3 linked regions of the Homo sapiens genome follow. The protein of the gene in region 3 interacts with the protein of the main gene of each other region in a pairwise test. Each region holds a gene or a part of one and is shown on either strand. Other genes may lie near its edges.

Region 1 (7,413 bases), on a different chromosome or scaffold from region 3:
TTGTTGAGGAAATTAGGTTCTGCGAAATGGCTTCATGGTTTGGCTCCACATTAAGGATGAGGTGTACAAGAATGAAAAGGGAAATAATTTCTGAATATATTTTCTTCATTGCTGTGACTTATTACTTACTGCATATTGGCCCTTTGGCTTTTATACTATAAAAAAACATAAGTTCGGTTATATTCTGCTGACCAAAGGAAATCATGACATAAACTGCTAGTTGTACTGTTTCTTTCCTGTTTTGCAACCAATATAAAATACTACATTTCTCTACATTAAAAATATACATAGTGAATTTAAATGCTTCCTCAGTTTAATAACCACTATAAAAATAGCCAGGAAAAGCCACTGGTGGTAATGCCACTATTTTTAACCATGAACTGTATTCTCAAAATACCATAACTAGATAATTGGGACATAGGAGAGTTGTCTTTCTGTGATTTTGAATTCTAGGGGTTTGATGTGAGAATGAAATTTAGGCCGATTTTATTGTTTTAATGGGAAGTTCATCTGCATGATCTATTAACAATGAAATGCAAGAGGCCATTAAAGGTGAAAAAGTAACTTCCTACTATTTTTCATGGGTGTTTTCAAAGTAAGATAAAGATTTATTTTCTGACTTTGTATAGTGACCACAGCCAGGGCCAGAGAAAAGTGATCTCCCTTGAGTTGCTTGCAGTCTGCACTCTGACTTCCTCCTCTTGGCCCAGTTGAGTCCAGACATTTCAACAGCTTGACTAAGCCTCATCACCAGTTAGCTGCCAAATTCAGTGGCTGCCAATACCACTAGTAGCTTTTTAAATACACCTGTTGCCAGCACTATGTTTGAGTCAAGAAGGCTAGACCTTTCTGGTCTACCCCAGTGGCTAAGCTCTCTTTCAAAGGAGAATTATTTTTAGTATTACTTCATCATTTTTCCTTAAGAAAATGTTTTTCTAGCAAGCTTCTCTCCTTACAGAGAAATTGCATTTACACTGATCCCAGTACATAACATCTCGTCTGGGTTAGCCTAGGGAGAAAGAGTAGTTTCAATAATTGATATTACCTGTGGGGCCAGCAAGATATATGAATAACAAAACATAAAAACTTGGTGTAACTGAGAGGTTTCAAGTGTAATAATCAAAAACCACTTACAGCAAAGTTAATCTGATAGTTAATGGTATGTATTGCGTGGTAATTAGGTATAAACACTAAGTACTTCATATAAAGGACTATAATTAATGTGTTTCATGAAGCCAAACAAGCATTTTTGGAGCAAGCTTGGTGGGGAGATGAATAGAAAAGCAGTTAAAGCTAGATTCTGTTCTAAAGATCCTGGACCACAGATCCTCTTTGGCCAGGTTTTTCTGCGTTTCCATTAGCATTTGCTCACAGCCAGGAGGCCAGTGGCCAGGAACAACTTTCCCTATCCACCACAAAGCTGATAAAAAGCTAAAGAGAAAAAGTGTGGTGGATTCAGTTCTGACAACCTTCCAATCTTTGAAACACTGTATGACTATTTAGCTGTAGCTTAGCAGTACTTTAAGGTGAAGAAATAGGACATATCAGAGTATTTCAATACTTTGGGCACTATATAGCCACTGATAAGGATTCTTCCTCAACAGTCTTTTCAGCTAGTAGGACTTCATGAGCTCATTTTGATCCATTTGACTATGAGTCAGTGTTCTCAAGGTGTATGTGTTTTGCTTTTACCAATGGAATATTTGGTCATAGATAAATCTGTAGTTTATTAAAAAACAAAAAACACCAAACTGGCTGGGCACAGTGGCTCACACCACTTTGGGAGGCTGAGGTGGGCAGACCATTCGAGTTCATGAGTTCGAGGCCAGCCTGGCCAACATGGTGAAACCCTGTCTGCACTAAAAATACAAACATTAGCCAGGTGTGGCGGCACATGCCTGTAATCCCAGCTACTCAAGAGGTTGAGGCAGGAGAATCACTTGAACCTGGGAGGTGGAAGTTGCAGTGAGCTGAGATCACGCCACTGCACTCCAGCCTGGGTGACAGAGCGAGAGGCTGTCTCCAAAAAAACAAAAAACAAAAAACAAAAAAAAAACCCAAAACAAACAGAAAAAAACCTTACACATACGTCTGGTCTGAGGTTGACATGTCTTTACCCTAAGGATATCTGGTTATTTTTTTCCTGCAATGTGTGCCTGTGTATGACGCCAGTGACACTGTTTCTATTGACTGACAGATTTGATTTGGTGTGACCTGATAAAATGATCTGGTTCAAATGCCAATTTCATTGGCTTTGTTCTTGCCTCCTTTCTTACCTGACATTCAATACATCAGCAAATCTTGTTTGCTCTTAGAAATGGAATCTCACCATTTTTACCACCTGCACTCTGGTCTGTCATCAATGTATTTTACCTGGATCATTACAATAGTCTTCTAACATCTAGTTGCTCTTAGGCTCAATCTGTTCTCCACAGTGCAGCTCTTCTCTCCCAACCCAAATCAGATTTGGTCACTCCTCCAATGGCTCTCCTTTTCATTCAGAATAAATTTTAAAGGTTACAAGATTCTACAACTATACCCTTCTTGTACCCTACTCCCTCTTCTGATTTAGTCAGCTGCTTTCCCACCGCTCACTGAATTCTAGCCTACACTGACCTCCTGCCTATTTCTCAAACATGCCAAGCCCACTTCCACTTAGGGTCTTTGCATTTGCTGATCCTTCTGTGTAAAATATTCTAACCCTGGGTAGCCAAATGGCTAATTTCTCACTTCCTTAGTTCTCTGCTCAAATGTCAGAGAGGCATTCCCAGACAAACATATTTAAAATAGCATCCTCCCTCCCCATGTCTCCCTACCCTGCTTTATTTTTCTATGACTCACCATCTGGCATAGTAGGTATTTATTGGCTTTTTTTTTTTTTTGGCCTTTCCGACTACAATATAAGCTCTATGACAGCAGGCACTGTATATCTCGGTGAGCTGTTGTATCCTCATTCCTTAGAACATTGCCTAGCCCATTTATGAATATTTGTTGAGCCACATGAATCAAGGCCTCCTTTTGAGATCGTGAACGTTTTCATTTATTTATTTATTTTTTTGAGACGGATTTTCGCTCTTTCACCCACGCTGGAGTGAAGTAACGCGATCTCTGCTCACTGCAACCTCCTCCCCGCCTCGGGTTCAAGCGATTCTTTTGCCTCAGCCTCCCCAGTAGCTGGGATTATAGACTCCTGCCACCACGCTCGGCTAGTTTTTGTATTTTTAGTAGAGACAGGGTTTCGCCATGTTGGCCAGGCTGGTCTCGAACTCCTGACCTCAGGTGATCACCCCCCCCCCCACTTGGCCTCCCAAAATGCTAGGCTTACAGCCATGAGCCACTGCGCCCGGCCATTTTTCTTTTTAAAAATAAACTTTCCAGATCTTAATTTCATGGCTTTAACATTTTAAATGTTTGAGGTATAATCTACTCATTCTTGGCTCTAATCTTTTTGTCAGGGAAGTTAAACTAGTGAGAGACCTATGAACAACAGCAACAATTTAATGAGCACGTCTTATATGCCAAGCTTTGTGGTTAAGCACTTTGCTTTATCTCACTTAATTCTAACTATGGTCCTAGAGGTTGGTATTACAACTAATCTCCTTTTACAGAGAGTTACTGAGACTTGGAGAGGTTAAATAACTTGCAGCCAGGTCACAAAATTAATCACTGAGTTGAGACGACAATTAAGGTATGGCCGACTCCATACTGCCTCCTAGCCGTCTCCTCGAGTAGTTCATGCCCTGTTAACTTAAGTCGTGAAGCTGCTGGTGTCAAAGCATTCCTTTTGCAGTTTCGTGTACTAGGGTTCTGGGTGATTTTGCACATATTTATTTCAAAGATCCTCCGTACCACACCAGGGAGTTTACCTTCTGGAATGTTGTTGAAGCCCCTGTCCTCTATGCTGGGACACTTTCATGCAACGTTTGCTTAGCCAGACTCAGGAAAACGCCTTTTTTTTTTTTTCTCATTTCCCTGCACTCCACATTAAACACAGAGGTAGTTTAAATCACCTGGTAAAAGAAGATGGGATCACAAACGCTGTGGTCCAGAAGGGAACATCAGTAAGTCGGTTCACCGCTTGCAAGTGGGGGCACTTACATATAAATGAAGAAAAAACAAGTTCTTAAAAAGCAGCCGACCCTGGGTTCTTAAAAAGCAGCCGGGGAAGAGGGCTCAGGGGACCGGACGCGGTGCCCCGCACCACGCTAGGCCTGACAACCGGAAGAGAGGGGCCAGGAGGGGCTCCTCCAGAGCGACTTCGGCTCCAGTAGGGAAACCGCCGAGGCTCCCCCAGCTCCAGGGAGCGCCGGGGACGCAGGCGGGAAGCCTCCATCGGGCAGCCGGCCTGGACTCACGACGCGGGGTGGGGCCGGCGCCCGCCCCGCCCCTCTCCTCGGGGATGCCGGGATGTTTACACTCCTGACAGCGGCGGCAGCAGGAGGAGGATCGGGAGTCGCGGGAGGATGGGCCGCCGCTAGGCTCGCACTCCGGACGCGCCTCGCAGTGCGCAGGGTGGGTGCCCCGCGCCTGCAGCGTCCGCCGGGGCGGCGCGGCGGGAGGTGGCCGACAGGCTCCGGGCCTCGCAGCCTCAGCCCCCGGCCCAGCGCGCTTTCCGACGGCGGCGCCGCGCCGAGCCACCCGCCCGCCCAAGGTCTCTCGCGGGCGGGAGAACGGAAAACTCCCAACTTCCTGGTGAGTCGCTGCCCAGGGTTCAGGCGCCCGGACCGGGCAGCTCCTGCCGGGAGGGGCCGCCTGCGGGAGTCGGGCCGGGAGAGGGAGGTCGGGACCGCGCGGGGCGGCCTCCGGGATACCCTCGCTCGGGGTAGGTGGGGCGGGGCGCGCTGCGCTCGAGGCGGATGGGGGTTTCGGTCTTGTTCGTTGGCAGCGGTGGGAGGGGGCGGCAGGAAACTTCATACCTGGCCCCGGCTCTAGAGGCCCGAGGCCGCCAAGGGCGCCGCGGTAACTAAGAAACTCCGTGGCCACGGCGGCGGCGGCAACAGGTCTTTGGTTTCGGGACCCGAGGAACTTAAGCGAAGTCCCGCCTTCCGGCGGATGCTCATTGGCGACGTCGGTTATTTATCTCTCGCGGATTGGTGAAGTCCGTCTGTCAGGATTCGGCAGCAGCCCGACTTAGGAAAGTGAAGTGCGCTGGGAGAGAGTGGGTGGTGGGAGCCGGCAGATAGGGGAGAATCCGAAGTGGCTTCAGAAGTACAGGGAGCGTGAGAGGTCTGTCGGAGAATGAACTTGGGAGAGACTCGGGATTACAAAATGTCGGAGAGAGGGATTGCGAGGCAATAGCGAACATTGCTGGTGATGGTGGCAATGGAAAAGAAATTGAAAACTGAGGCCAAAGTCAGAGAAGGGTAGCCAAAGGAAAACAGAGAAAAGTGACAAGACCGTATGACCGCAGAACAGTGTAAGGAAGCGAGCACAACCTAGAGGATGCTGCCTTGAGAGCTAAAGAACTTCTGTTGCCTCTGTTACACTGTAGGCCTTCACTCCTAAAACCGCAGCATCCTCTATTTAGTCTTGCACTGGGAGCGTACTGGGGTCGCGGAGAGATGATGTATCGTGTTCTCACCTTGCTGTAGTCCTCACTGGGGAGAAATGCTAAAAAATATACTTAGTTTACAGTAAGATACATGTTACTGTCCTTGCGCAATTCTGGTGACTGAACTGAAAATCAGAAATACACAGAAATAAAATGATTATTCTCCTTTGAGGTTACTGAGCTCAAGGATGCAATTGAAAACACCACATTTCCATAGTTTGTAGAGCCTAATGTACCCATCATAATGGGAACCACTGTTTCTAGTTCCTCCTCCAAGGAATTTACAGTTTCAAGGCTATGCACACTCCCTCCAGGCGACAGCAGTATGTCTTGTCAGGTTGCATTAGAGAATTAAAGTACAGAGTATGTGTATTATAAATATGTTCTGTTCAGGACCTTGAGCTGCTGGTGGTGTGGTCGAAGAATGGCATAGTCCTTGCACTCAAAAGCTACAGTATGTTTGGGACAACCGGTCAAACCCTGAAAACGGTGAACAGTAAAACAGGAGATACAGTTAACCCTCTAATGCTTTGTGGCAACTCTTGTTGAATGGCCGCTGAGTATTCTTGGTTTGTAACACTTGGTGATGGCCAAGTGCTCTTGAAACAGCTAACTTAAAATCTCAGCAGTTATTTTATTTCCAGAGGAAGGAATTCTCTCTCCCTCGGCGAGATCCAGTCCACAGCTTGCTTCACTCTTAGAACAGCGGCATCCTCTATTTGGTCTCGCACGGGGAACTTGCTGGGGTAGGGGAGAGGTGTTAGAGCTTTGAAAAAGCTTTGCCTCTCGGAGGAGTCAAAGGGGCAGTAACTGTATGGGGTGAGAGGAAGGCCTGCGAAATAAAAAGGCAAAGGAACCGTTTGAGGAGGCTAGTTGCCTTCTCGGGGCCGGTGTGTGTGCGGGGGTAGTGTTAAGGGGGAGGAAGGAGCCCGGGAGCCCGGAGGACCCTCCCGGAGGTGCGGGCCTGAAATTCCGCTGGGTGCCGGGAGGCTCCGCCCTCCGGAGTACTGACGGCCTTCGCAGCCAATGCGCAGCCAGGACCTCGCGTTCGGGAGGGCGGGTACTTCCTACTCCAGCCCTGGGCTCGGAGAAGGCCGCGTTAGTTCTTTTTCTAGGGATGTCTGCGGAAGGGGCGCCAGGCTGAGGGCCAGCCTGGAGAAAGAAAGAAAGGAAGGAAGGAAGGAAGGAGGAGGGGGGCTTCAGTTTTCCCTGAGCCATCCTAGGTGTCCCGTTTCGTGATTCAGCTGCACCTAGAACTTAACTACTACTGAAAGTTTATAGTAGATTAGAAGCGAAGTTGGTCAGCAGACTAAATATAGTCCATGTGACTGAGGCGGGTTTTACTCTGAAATTACCTGAAAATGAAAACCACTAAATGTCAGAATCTAAATCGTTAGGCGTTTTCACAACTTCTTGGGAATCTTTCCATGGTTAAAAATCTTACCAATTTAACAAGACTAACTTTATTTCTAAGCGTACAGACTCATTTTATAGTCTGAACTAGTATTTAGGTTTATTTATTTAGATAATACATGTAGCACCCACCATTGCTTTCCCCCTTTCATATTTTCCTGTCTGGACAATTTCGAGTTCATTTCCATCCCAGTAAAACAGCACTTACCCAAAGAATGAGGAAAGCACATATGGTATGATGGCAGTGTACTAGTAGAGGAGGGGAGATTTGATGCCTCTATAGCTAACATACCTGATTAATAAATTTAAAAAAAAATTGCATCGTAATGACCAGAAGTCCAGTGCAGTTACAGTTTGTGTAAATAAGTACTTAATCTCATAAGGACCTCATGCCCCAAATCTTTCCTGGTGCTTGCAGTTGATAGTTTTGGGCTCTGACTTACTGTAAA
Region 2 (7,036 bases), on a different chromosome or scaffold from region 3:
ATGCCAAGGTCTATCACACTGCTATGAACAAAATAGGACTTGTTGGTTTGATTGAAGATTTGAGATGTCTGGGTGTCGAGAAGTCAACTAAAGGGATATGACCTTGAGCAAATTAATTAGCTTTTGTACCTGCATCTCCTCATCTGCCAAATAAGTGCCTATTTTTTTTGGAACAGGTGGAGATAGGGGCATGTTGGGGAGTTAAGATAGCAGTGTAATTTTTTAAAAGTCTATTCGTATATTTATATTCTTTCTTCAATGGGCATTTGAAGTGGCTTATAACACAGAACATATATGTGATATAAAAGGAAGTAAAAACTATAGAAAGAATGAAAAAAATATTGTTAACCTCGAGGGCTAAGATAGTTGATGAGGTTGATCACATGCAACTTGAAACTTTTAGCAGCCAGAGGATGAAAAGAATCATAGTTACAGTCTCCTTAGCAGGCATGGGAAATAATACATGTCAATTCCTCAAGGGGACGACTTTTCCTGACACAGAGTTCTAAAATAATTTTTCACGGGAATGTCTTAATAGCTGTAGTGTAATTCACATTGTAAGGCTTGTTCACGACTGTCACTGGTGATTTCAGATGGTATGGCTAGGAAAATTTGAGGTAAGAAAAGGAATCCTTGAGTTTTAAGAGTTAAGTGTACCACAACTGAAGAAGATCCTTGTTTAATGTTGGCAGTTATCGGTCAAACCAAGTAAGTAATCTAGTTCCCCATAACCACTGGTTATTTATCCCTCTTTTGCTGCTACTTTGTGTAACAGGAGTGGTAACTGTCCTTGGACCTTTGGAAATTGACACTGTGTCAAGTTGATTCTTTTTTCATAGTGTAAACCCAAATCTCCAACTTGTTGGAGAGCTCTTACAATAAGCATGTTTCTCCGGAAGGCCTTTCAGAACATTTGCTGTTCTCTGAACTTCTGAACATTAAAGGCACTCTCCAGAGTGATCCATTAAACATTTTGACCTAGGATCTGTGGAGTCAGACCCATCAGCAAAATGTGGGGAAGGAGAAGAGCACAGAAGAAACTACTTTTGTTTATAGGATATTCTTTATTTGAATGAAGCTATGTGCCACTAATTCATCAAAAGGGTCAGCTGAGACTTAGGAAGCACACCAAGTAGAGCCCCAATGGGTACAGCTTGGGTGTTAACCCGATAGGTAAAATCCAGGTTTCTCCTTTTGTCATCAGAGTTATCTTACGGTTAATTTTTGGTGCAGTTGTATAGAATTTACGCCAGGACTTGTCAGAATCACTGAAAGGAGATTTCATAGGTTGGCATTTCCTATCTTCACATCATTAGTATCTCTTGATTCTCCTTAGAGTGGCTGCTGTTGTAGTAGCAGTCTTTAAAACAGGAGTTGGGGTGTAAGAAGATCCTCTTTTTAAGATTTCTCCGCAGGTATTGATTACATCTCTTTTTCTTGTTTGGTTTAGTTAGTTACACTCTAGTTTCCAAATTACTTTGTTCCAAGTTTCTTTAGACATTTAGCTTGTAACAGAAATCTGTTAGAAGATTTCTAGATCAGTAGTTGTCTAGATCTTTTGCTGCCAAGGTTACAAATGTATACCTTTTCTTTTATCAGGAGTGTGTCATTTGGATCCAGAGTGTTTTACCCAATATAATATTCTTTTTTAAAATTTATTTTTATTTTTTATAGAGATGGGGAAATCCCTGTGTTGCCCAGGCTTGTCTTGAACTCCTGGGCTCAAGCGATCTTCCCACCTCAGCCTCCCGAAGTGCTGGGATTACAGGCAAGAGCCACCACGCCCACCCCAATATAGTATTCTTGGAAAGTTGTCTATAAAGGATATTTTGATACATGGAATCATGCAGGTCTTTAGTTGCCTGTGACTCCTAGCAAGTGTACTCTGCCACTCCGAGTAGTTAATGATCTGTAAATAAGCACTTTAATGCCCTCTTGGGGTTGTTTTAAAGGAACTGGCGAATAAAGGAGAATCATTTATACGTACCTGTTTCTCAAGTTTGGGAATGTGAGTATTGCATTTTTATAAAGAATGTCAACCCTGATTATACTGGATACATTTTATTATAATTTAGAACTGAATAGTAATTCAGAACACATGCTAATGAGGTGCGTCAGAAGCATTCCTGTCATGTGAAGGGCAACCTACGTGCATAGACCAGAATTTTTTCTAGCCTGAAATCTGAGAATCCCCAGTTGAAGACAAATTCTTACCACAAATTTTCCTTTTGATTATTGTCAATACTATCAGTGCCTATTGTGTAGTAAGCAGTTAATAAAAATTCACACAGAATTGCAGTTGCCTTTCCTTTTCTGATTCCATATTTTCCTTTGACTCACTCAAGTAGTTCTTTTGTCCCACTGTTGCTTGGCTGTTACATAAGACGCCTTTAACTTCCCGTTTCTGTTCCTAAAACTGTGAGTAGTAGTACAACATAAGGTAAGCACTGATTTTTGGAGTCAGTTTTACCTTTAGTCTCTACCATCTAATAGTTGTGGGACATTCAACAAGTGACGTCCTTTTCTCATCTGTAAAATGGGGAACAATGATAGTGCTATCTATATACATGGTTGAGAGGGTTAGCATTTAGTAAATAGTAATTAGTGGGGTTTTTTTGTACCTAGAGTGACCATATATCCTGGTTTGCCTGGCGCAATTCTGGTTTATACCTGTTATCCTAGCATGCAGTCCAAGGAGTGCCTCCGTAGCTCTGAAAGTTACCCTGGTTTATGTGGCCACCCTATTTATAACTCTCTGGATGATGCAACATGATAGTGCAAATGAGAGCCTAATTTTGAAATGTTAAAGAGCCAAAACAAAGAAGTTTCTATTGGAATGTCTTTTCAATAAGAAAATTTTTTTCTGACAAAAATGTTATTTTATATAGAGCTTACAGCTACTGAACCCCAAAACATTTTGTTAACTACAGGGGTGGGGTGTGTAGACAGAGATCTTAGAGCTTTTGATGGAGTTGAGATGTCCTCTACCTTACCATTCCCCATTCATCCCCCGTAATACATAATGCACTCATAGAATGTGGGTATTTGTCAGACACTGGGCCAGTCTCAGTCCAGGAGTTTATTTCCTTAAACTTCAGGTGTTTGGGGTTTTCCCAAACTAGAATCCTTGAATTACATGAAATAATTGCAAAGACTTCTGAACTGTGACTTTATCATTTTAGGTATGTACTCCAGCACCCCCGCCCCCATCCCTGCAGGTACTGTTTTCTCATTGCTCTTAACAGCCTGCTTCTAATTATGTATAACTGATTTTCTCCTGTAGAAATGTGTGGCCTTTGCTGCATGCCACTCATAGAACTAGAGTGGAGCATCCATGCCTTTGTTGAGAGACTCAGACTGCTTTCATTTTTGTTTCTATCTCTGTTTAATTTTTCTAAAGGATTTAGCCTGGTGCCTTAATCTCAGAATGTAGATAATGATGGATACTGCTTATCAGTATACATTGGGGGGCTTAATCATTCACTACCCAAATGGAACACAAAGTAAAAAGTTTAATGAACTATTGGTAAAAGGTAGTATTTGGAAATCTGGGGTAGAGATTGGAAAAGTACTTTTGAGAACCACAGGTACAAGACTCTCCAAGCATGCTCCTGCTTCTTACCATAAAAGCCCCAACGCCTCCGCTGATGTGCCTGTGTACTTAACCTGTGGGGCTTAATGGGCTTAACATGTTCTTCTCTACCAGCCCAAGCCAGTTCACTTGTTTTAAAGTGGACAGCCTGTACTCAGTTGTGTGATGGAAATGGGGCATATTAAACAGGAGGGGTCTGGGACTGCTCTCTGTTCCATGCTGTTCATCTTGGACCTGCCTCAGGCTTACTTCTTCACAATTTGAGGAACTGCTCAGCAAGAGCACACCCTATTGTTGACATGTTTTTCTTTTCTCTCCGGAACCTGCGAGTGTACGATGGCATTAGTGGAATCCCTCTGAGCCTGTGTGCCAAGGAAAATGCTAATGTGCTGATCCACAATGATGTGTGGCTCAGTGTGAACTACGTAGTAAATTTGTGAGTGACAGAGTAAAGGGGCAAGAGGCTGGAGGAGATGAGTATAACCATCTTTCATTCACTTAGACTTCCTGAATGAAGCCGTTCATACTGAGTTTTGAGCAATGAGAGGATTTTGGAAGTTCTGTTTTTAATAAATGGCTCCAACTCTTCTAGTACTTACTAATTGTATTAAGGTGAACCTTTGGGACATAGGTTTCCATATGCTTAATGGGAAATACTTTGTCCCTTTTCCCCCAAGACTGGCTTGACCTCACGTCAAGACCTCACGTCAAAGCTTTTGGGCCATGACCTGTTTCCTTTGTGGTTCCAGAAATCTGGGGGCGGGGGGAAGAAAAGAGAGAGACCTACCATAAAAGTTAATAGGACAGGCTGGGCCCAGTGGCTCACGCCTGTAATCCCAGCACTTTGGGAGGCCGAGGCAGGAGGATCACAAGGTCAGGAGATCGAGACCATCATGGCCAACATGGTGAAACCCCATCTCTACTAAAAACACAAAAAAAATTAGCTGGGTGTGGCAGCACACACCTGTAGTCCCAGCTACCCGGGAGGCTGAGGCAGGAGAATCGCTTGAACCCAGGAGGTGGAGGTTGCAGTGAGCCAAGATCGCACCACTGTACTCCAGCCTGGCAACAGAGCAAGACTCCGTCTCAAAAAAAAAAAAAAAAAAAAAAGTTAAAGGACAGAGATTCTGATCTGCCCTCTTTGACCAGACCCACCCCTTCTCCTTTCTCAAAGACTTTAAGGAGAAGACTTCAGGTTCTCATGACTGTTAGCTTTATTTTGGGGATGTAGAAAATAGAGATTCACTTTGAATTTTCAAAATGCACATCCCCATCTTTGTTTCTAATTTTAGAAGAGAGGTCAGTAAGTAGACAGATTTGTGTAGAAGATAGAGAATTGGAATATGCTTCTCTTTTGCCTATTTGAGGGAATGCTCTTGAGAATCACTGGATTAGAGACTGTAGAACAATGGTTCTTACTCTTTGAGTCAGAGGTCCTTTTAAGAGTTTAATGAAAATCCTGGTTCTTTCCTCAGGAAAATTCAGGAGCACAAAAATATGCGTATTCTGTTAGAGGATTTATGGGACTTCTGAAACTCATGGATCCTGGGTTTTAAAGTCCTGATGTGGAAGGCCAGGCCTCCAAGCCACAGCATCTCTTTTCATTACAAGTCCACAAACTGCTAAGAGATTTAAGTTTCCAGCCTGCAGTTTGTCCTTATGGCTTGGAACAAAGCTGAGGTTGTTGGCATTGTCAGCTCCCTCTTTGGGATGCTCCTCAGCTTCCCAAAAGACTCATTATAAGTGCCTTGAGAGTTCAGCTCAGGAACTTAACACACATTCGAACCGGCATTTCGGCCACTTTGGGGGAATTTTTGGTATTATCTCAACTCTACTGCTCTTCATATGAAATGCAGATGCCCCTGAAGCTCCAGAGCTGATTCCGTAGGAGTGTTTGAAATAGTAGCTCACATAGTAGATTATCAAAACTAAACAAAATAATTTGCTTCTGTATGTCTCTCAAAAATAGGTTGGATTTCAATGTAGTACTTCTCAAACTATTATATTTTAAGGACTGACCTGATATTTGAATTTTACTCATCATTTGACTTTTCTAGATGGAATATGTTGAGGGCAAAGACCGTATCTCACACATATTTATATAGTACCTGGCACATAATACTGTCAATAAATGCTTATTGAATAAAATAATGTGAGATAATCATTCCTTGGAGAAAGTAAGTTGGACTTATGTGGTGGCTTTGACTCACTTTCCCTTTCAGTTGGCTGGGGTGATTTTTCTAACTTAGAGCCCTCTCACATAGGTATAAGGAAGTACCAAGAACTGCAGGTGAGAAATTGATGAGAATTTCCAACTTAATAGATCCCTTTATAAAGCCAGAAATAGGAGGTCAGGGAGAAGACATCTGAATATATGCCTCCAGCTTCTTAGCCCAGTGGCAGTGGGCATAGGGATATCCTTAGACAATAATGGGGAAGGTAACTTGAATTTCTCACCATTGAAACAACTTTTAAACCCTTAGCATTAGGGAGACTCTGTCCAAAGTTGAAACTGGTATCCTGGTTTATACATGCTCTTGATTTAAAGAACAGGGAGGCTTTCACATAGGGTATTTGAGGTTTGGGGATTAGCGATGAGTTGAATAGTTTGATTTTGGAAAGTACATTGGAACTCTGAAAGTAATAAACAACAGCTCCGTCCGGCAGTGATGAGCAAACTTCTGGTTCTTACTCTGCAACCCTGGCTGCCCCTTCTGAGTCAAAGGCTGAGTTTGATGCTCAAAAGCTATACATGCCCTTCTCTCTTTGAAACACACCTTCTTTAGAATTACAGTCTTCTGGGAACTGGGCCAATGCTTATCCTAGCCAGAAGCTCAGGCTCTAGTTGGCACTACATTTTGTGTGTTCTGTTTCACTTCAAGTGTATAACTTAGGCAAGATTCAGGGGAAAAGGAGACCTTCAGAATTTTGCTATTTTGTGTTGTTTGTTTGTTTGTTTGAGATGGATTTTTGCTCTTGTCGCCCAGGCTGGAGTGTGATGGCACGATCTCGGCTCACTGCAATCTCCACCTCCCGGGTTCAAACAGTTCTCCTGCCTCAGCCTCCCAAGTAGCTGGGATTACAGGCATGTGCCACCACACCTGGCTAAATTTTTTTTGGTGTTTTTTTTGTTTTTGTTTTTGTTTTTAGTAGAGATGGGATTTCATCATGTTGGTTAGGGTGGTCTCGAACTCCTGACCTCAGGTGATCCACCCGCCATGGCCTCCCAAAGTGTTGGGATTACAGGCATGAGCCACTGCACCCGGCAAATTTTGCTATTTTGGAAGTTGAAATAGGTGCTTCCTAGAGATAGCAGATGTATCCAGTTGCTTTGGTAACTAATTCAGTTTCTTATGGGTGGCCAGGTGGTATCCCACTTATTATTCAATACTTGAGGGTTCAGTGCCCAGCTTCTGAGCACCAGCTTTCTTAGCAAGCAAGACA
Region 3 (7,240 bases):
TTATTTGTCCCACCTTCTCTATTTCTATTCCATTTTCTCCCTTTTTGACTTTTTTTTTTTTTTGAGACAGAGTCTCACTCTGTTGCCCAAGTTGGAGTGCAGTGGCACTATCTTGGCTCACTGCAACCTCTGTCTCCTGGGTTCAAGCAATTATAGTGCCTCAGCCTCCTGAGTAGCTGGGATTACAGGCGTGAGCCACCACACCTGGCCAATTTTTTGTAGTTTTAGTAGAGACGGGGTTTCACCATGTTGGCCAGGCTGGTCTCGAATTCCTGACCTCAAGTAATCTGCGTGCCTCAGCCTCCCAAAGTTCTGGGATTACAGGCATGAGCTACCGTGCCCGGCCCCCTTTTTGACCTCTTGTGTATTAGTCAAAAACTCTAAAATTATTCTATTTCCATTCTCATTTAGCTTGTTATAAAAACTACTTTAATAATTTCTACTCTATTTTGGAAATTTCAATATGCATCTTTGACTTAATGAAGTCTAATATAAATTGGTACTTTTACTAATTATTAGGAAATGAGGGACCTTAGAAAACTGTACTCCATTTACATTTAACTCTTTCACATTTTCTTGCTATAGTCAGGCATTTCAGTTCTAGAAATATTTATTTTATTTCTTTTAGAGATGGAAAAGAAATATGCTGCCTAGGTTGGACTGGAACTACTGGGCTCAAGTGATCCTTCTACCTTAGCCTCCCATGTAGCTGGGACTATAGGCACTCACCACTGACTGGTTTAATTCTAGGAATATTTAAAACACCACAATATATTATATATAATACATATATATATATATATATATATATATATATATATATATAAAATCCTTGTTCATTTATATTTGTACATTTAGTTTCCTTCTTTTTCATTCTTCTTTGCCGTTCTCTACTGTCATTTGGGAGAATTTATCTTCTGCTTCAAGAACTATCTTTAATATTCTGTAAGACATCTTCTAGTGACAAATTCTCAAGGTTACATTTTAAAAAATCTTATTTTGCTTTCATTTTGAGGGTTTCTTTTGCGGGCTATACAATTCTAGATTGACAAGTGTTATTTATTTATTTTTGTTTTTGGTGGTTAAAAGCATCAGCACTTTGAATATGTTACCTCATTTTCCTTCTATTTCCCTAACTGCCCTTTGTTCCTCTCTTGCTTTCTCTCTAGAATCTAGATCTCTCAACCCCTCACTGCCCCAGTTGCTCTCTGACGCTTAACAGATCAAATATAACATCCTCTAGCTTTTCTAGTTGCTCTCAAAAGGAGACTATAAGCAAGTCTACTATTTTGGGAAACATAAATTTTATTTATAATTATAAATATAAACTATACACACATCTATGTATATGTGTTTATGTGTGTGTGTATATATATATCCATATATATGCACATTCTATATGTTTTTCTTTTTATTTCATTTTCCAAACAAATATCTGTGGCTGATGTGTAGAAATGCAAGTGCTTTATTTTAATAGTGCTTTTATATAGGCACACATAGAGAACAAAGATGATTAGAAGTGGCCATATTGGGTACGTTTGCCTTGTTTTCATAGTTAGTTTCAACATTTTACTATGTGTAATTAAATATATGATGTTGGATTTGTGATATTTGCTTTTCTTAATGCCTTCTATTAGATTGAGGAAGTTCTCTTTTAAGAAAGTTTGTGAAGTGTTTCTATTACTAATGGAAGTTGAGTTATTGACAAAGGCCTTTTCTGATTCATTGAGGTAATTATATGAATTTTTAAACTTTTATGTTTAAATGTGATGTATTACATTCGTATATTTTCTAAAGCTAAACAATCCTCCTGTTATGGACTTAAGCTGAACTAGGTCACAATATAGATTGGATCTTTATACATAACTCTGCTGTGCTATGTAAGAGTACAAATTAACATGATCGTTTTGAAAGCAGAATGGCAATATTTCTGTTAGTTTGTGTTTATCTATGCCCTATGTCCAAGCAATTCATTCTGGATACATCACAGAGGACTTCTCAGTCAGGTCCATAAAGAATCACATACAAAGTTTGTTTTCAGTTGATTATATGTATAGCTGTAATTGTAGGGAATTAAATAGACTTTAATATGTATTACTATGAAATGGTTAAGAAACATGTAGTGGATGTGTATTGTGGGATACTATCCAACAGTTAGATACAACTCACTAGATTTACCTGTAATATGAAGAGCTCTTAAAAACAGCTCTAAGTGAAGAAAGAAATAAACATAAATCTTTATCACATTTTTATGTAAATTAAAAATATACATACAAAGCACAATACATGGATACACACATACTCAAAGACAAAAATTAAAAAAGAATCCTTCCTGCTTTTCTGGCTTTGTTTATGACTCATCCTACTGCCCACCTGGGGTGGCCTGCCCCTGCACCAATCTAGACTCTATAGTCAGTGAATCCCCAGCTCAGGGGCAATCTCTACAGGAAACTTTCCAGCATAACTCTAGACCACAACGATCTCTCCCGTATTTTGAATTCCTGTGACATATTCATACATTTTCCACCCAAACAATGTCATACATAAAACAAGGCAAAGAAATATCAGTTGTAAACAGGTATTTTTGATGTCCTTCTTCCTCTCTCCAACTAGATGTTAGGTTGAGTGACTGTATCCATGCTTGCTTCCCACAAAGCACTGGGGACTTTTGCTGGTTGGTTATTAGAGAAATATTTTATCTTGATGCTGTCTCACCGTCAAAACCAGCCTATCCTTGTCAGTAAGAGAGGCTCTCACTATCAGTTTTTTTTTTTGTTTCCCACACTTTCTTCTGAGCTTTCTCCCTTTTCTTATCTTTCTCTGACTTGAGAGAACCCCTCAGCAGACACAGTCTTTCTAATTTCTTTTGCTTTGTTCTTCCCTGCCCTCCACTGACCACTGGCAAGATTAGAAATAGAGAAAGGCAGTCTCCATAGTTTTGCTTACTCACCTGTTTTAATGATCTCTCCTATCTGGGTGGCTGGAAAAGTACCTGTGAGTTCTTAACTGGCTCTTGTGGCTGTGTAAAATGTTTTTGTTCCTTGTCTGTGAACACATTTATTTTCATCAGTCTGTTTTCCTCGTAAATTGGCTTATCTTGGGGTGGAGATTTGAAGAGGCAATAAACAGTAGTACAATTAACTGACAATTAGATAATTCCACAGCCTCTGTTAACTGGGTGTTACTCGGGTATTCTTTGAGATTCCTTCTCTCTCCATGTTACTGGTGACCCTTGGGAATGGAAAACCTCTTAGTTCTGAAACAGCTGTGGTCCTTGAAGTCATAGTGTAAAAATACCCCAAGTGACTCTATGGATAGGCTTTCCTCAGAAAATCTGAAGTCTCACGACAACTCCAAACAAGAGAACAAATTGTCAGTGGACACCATGCAGAGAACTGGTGGGTGATTGAGAATTCTTTTTTTTTCTTTTTTTTTTTTTTTTGGACAAGGTTTTGCTCTGTTGCCCAGGCTGGAGTGCAGTGGCGTGATCATAGCTCACTGCAACCTCGAACTCCTGGGCCCAAGCCATCCTTCTGCCTTGGGCCTAGGGGCTACAGGTGCATGCTGCCACACCTGGCTAATATTTTTAATTTGTATTTTGTAGAGATGGGGTCTTACCATGTTGCCCAGGCTGGTCTTGAACTCCTGGGCTCAAGTGGTCTGTCTTCCTCGGCCACCCAAAGTGCTGGGATTACAGGCATGAGCCACTTTTCCCAGCTGGATCTTTTATCGGTTTGAAAAGGATATCTAATAAATGGGGAAGGACTATTTGCTCTGAGTTAGGGAAAGGGGATATGGTTCATTAACTCGTCATTATCATAAACATTATTTAATTCACCAATACAGTAAATGTTGCTGTAACTTCTGCTATGCCAAATGCCTGTAACATGAAAGGGAATATATGGGTGTATATGAATAATTAGGCCTATTAATCCTTCTTTCCCCTCTAACCCCTGGTCACCACTGGTTTTCTTACTGTCTCCATGGTTTTGACTTTTACAGAATGTCACATAGCTGCAATCATACAGTGTGTAGCTGTCCCAGATTGGCTTTTCTCTTAGCGATACGGATTTCAGTTTCTCTGTCTTTTTGTGGCTTGATAGCTTATTTCTTTAGTGCTGAATAATATTTTACTGACTACATATTGGAGACCTTTCTCTCATGCCTCATGCCCTTCCCTCTGGAACCTTCATATTTGTCATGTGACTGTTACTTCAGCTCTGTAACATAAATCTAACTTCATCTCTCTTTCTAAGCCTGGATGCCCAGACCCTGTGCCAATTTGTAAGATTTAGTTTTGAAGATCACAAGTATTATTAGTACTGTGCTAAGTACTCATAGGATTAAATGAATTAATACATGTACAACATTTAAAAACAGTTTCTGACACTTAGTTTAAGCACTAAATAATTAGCAACTACTACTATCACCACCCCAACTACTACTATTTATGCATGGGAGTAAATTTTGAGATTGGCTTTTTTCTCCCACTCAGCGTAACGTCCACGATGTCCATCCAAGTTATTGCATGTGTCAACAGTTCATATGAACATATTGCCTCACTCACAATTAGGCAATATTGTTTGTTACCTTGGTTTCTTTAACCAATATTGTTTCTAAAACCTACTCCTCACTACTCAATTTGTTTCTTATCTTGTAAAGTCTTTGGTAGCTCTTTCAGAGGGGACCAGTATTAGACTGAGTACATATTTTTTCTTCCTAAATAGATGATAAATTTACTTGCTATAGAATTAGGTGAAAAATATTTTTCTTCTTAGCCTTGAGGATACTGTTTCATTCTCTTCATGCATCCAATGTCATTTATGAAATGTCTGATGTCAAAGTTAGTATAATTGTGAATCTTTGTAGCATTTTTCTCTTCATCCTTGGTATTATGAAATTTTATGCAGATCTTTTTATCTTCATCATGTTTGGCGCTTTTAATGGCCCATTAGACCTGAGATCTAATATCTGTTAACTTTTCTTTCATAATTTTGATCACACTTTCCTTTTATTCTGTATTCTGCAAGAATTCTTGAGTTAACATTTTATTTCTCCAGTTTATTGTTTTCATTTTGAACTTTAGTGTGTCCCTCAAGTTTTTCTTTATTTCACGTATCATATTTTAAATTTAACAAATATCTAGTTAACTCTAAGTATGGCTGCAATATCCTCTCACATCAGTCTGGTAATTAAACACACTTATTCTAAATTCTTGTATCAACTGTCCTTTTAACTTTGTTTTCTTGGCATGTCAATTTCTTCTGATTATTGTGCTTTATGCCTCTCTTTCAAGTGTTAGTCTCTTTCAAATGATTGGTAATTTTTGGTTATGTGTTCATCTTTGCATTTGAAATTTTCTGCTAGCCTCCCTGTAAATGTTGGGTTTATTTATTGCATTTTCTTCTGGGAGAGTGGTTAGAAATATTTCCTGGTGCTGAGTGCCAATATCCAGTCTTCTGAGAGTCCATGCTCTCTTCTTCCCTCTTGGGGATTATGCACAGCACTGCTCTGTCTTCCCAGCCCTTGCACACATTCTCAGTGCTTCCATATGATATGTGGAGAGGTCATACCTCATGGCTGTCTCTGTTAAACTCTGTGTCCACCTTTACTGATTTCAGTAGGAATCATAGGAAAAGACAGAAATACTATTATTTTACATATTTCTCATCAGGATATCCAACAAGTTCTGTTTGATATCAAACATAAATCCTGGGACTATTTAATTATGCCATTTTCCTAGACTCTGTAACAACTTTCACAACTGCATCTGTAATCTCTCTTATTTATTACTATCCAGAGTCAAGTTGACTTTACAGAAGTAAATTATCTCTTTCAGTCGTTGTATCCAATCACACAAGCTAAAGGAAAAAGTATACTTAATGACTCATATGAGTGGGAAGTCTTAGGAATTAATCTAGCTTCAGATAAGGCTCGATCTGTGGTTCAAACAATGTAATCAAGCTTCTCTCTAAGCCTGTAGGCTCTCCTGTCCTATTTTCTTAGAGATGCTTGCTCTCAAGATAATGCAGCAAGATAGTCCTAACATGCTTAAGCCATACATGGTCGTTGGTGTTCAAGATCTCAGAATGAGAGAGACCCATTTCTTTTCAGAATTTATATTAAGTCACAGAAAAAAACCAACAACTCTAATCAACTGTGCTAGTACCAATCACTTATGAAGGGTTTGGGGGAAGAGTGTTTTGATGAACCAGTAGGCACCAAAAATAGGCAAAAATCACATGATTGAGAGTCTCAGAGTCTCAGTAGCATGCTATAAAGTGGGGAAGGTACAGTTCTCCAGGAAAAGAGGGGCCCTCTTTCTGGAAGTAGGAATATTAGTCACAATTCAGCAAGAGATGTTCAGTACAAGAGGCAATAAAGATGAGGGCAAATAAGAGGGTGAGTCATATTTTCTGTCACTAATCCCTCATCTCTCTTTTTATCTCTCAGGAAGCTTTTCTGAAATTTTACTTTCTCCTCATATGAGTCATATAGGGAATTTACTTATTGATTCATTCATTTTCTTATTTACTTCCAGTCATTTATTACATGCCTGCAGTTGCAAACTTGAAAATAACTGGGATGCCACGTGTGGACGCTTATCTCTAAAGTTTGGGATTATTTTAATTAACTCCTAAAAAGCTTCTGCACAGCAAAGGAAATAATCAGCAGAGTTAACAGACAACCCACAGAGTGGGAGAAAATTTTCACTAACTATGCATCTGACAAAGGACTAATATCCAGAATCTACAAGGAACTCAAACGAATCAGCAAGAAAAAAACAAACAGTCTATCAAAAAGTGGGCTAAGGACATGAATAGACAATTCTCAAAAGAAGATTTAGGAATGGCCAACAAACATATTGAAAAATGCTCAACATCACTAATTATCAGGGAAATACAAATCGAAACCACAGTGCAAACCACCTTACCCCTGAAAGAATGGTCATAATTTAAAAAATAAAAAATAATAGATGTTGGTGTGGATGTAGTGAAAAGGGAACACTTTTACACTGCTGGTGGGAATGTAAACTAGTACAACCATTGTGGAAAACAGTATGGAGATTCCTTAAAGAACTAAAAGTAGATATACCACTACTGGGTATCTACCCAGAGGAAAAGAAGTCATTATATGAGAAAAGACACTGGCACACACATGTTTATGGCAGCACAATTAGCAGTTGCAAAAATATGGAACCAGCCCAAATGCCCATCAATCAATGAGTGGATAAAGAAAA

What was found. Proteins that work in one complex are often made in the same cells at the same time.
Region 1: the proteins of NXPE1 (region 3) and NEK7 interact in binary tests that used the Homo sapiens proteins (3 or more experiments, as listed by UniProt).
Region 2: the proteins of NXPE1 (region 3) and AHCYL1 interact in binary tests that used the Homo sapiens proteins (3 or more experiments, as listed by UniProt).

Annotation. Positions count from the first base shown.
Region 1 is NC_000001.11:198,152,585-198,159,997, forward strand, and holds the start of NEK7 (serine/threonine-protein kinase Nek7), read left to right. Parts: upstream 1-4,413; 5' UTR 4,414-4,692; exon of another isoform or gene 4,693-4,822; intron 4,823-7,413. UniProt on the Homo sapiens protein: Protein kinase which plays an important role in mitotic cell cycle progression. Required for microtubule nucleation activity of the centrosome, robust mitotic spindle formation and cytokinesis.
Region 2 is NC_000001.11:109,987,729-109,994,764, forward strand, and holds part of AHCYL1 (S-adenosylhomocysteine hydrolase-like protein 1), read left to right. Parts: intron 1-7,036. UniProt on the Homo sapiens protein: Multifaceted cellular regulator which coordinates several essential cellular functions including regulation of epithelial HCO3(-) and fluid secretion, mRNA processing and DNA replication.
Region 3 is NC_000011.10:114,556,848-114,564,087, forward strand, and holds the start of NXPE1 (NXPE family member 1 isoform 1 precursor), read right to left. Parts: upstream 3,035-7,240; 5' UTR 2,951-3,034; exon of another isoform or gene 2,179-2,950; intron 1-2,178.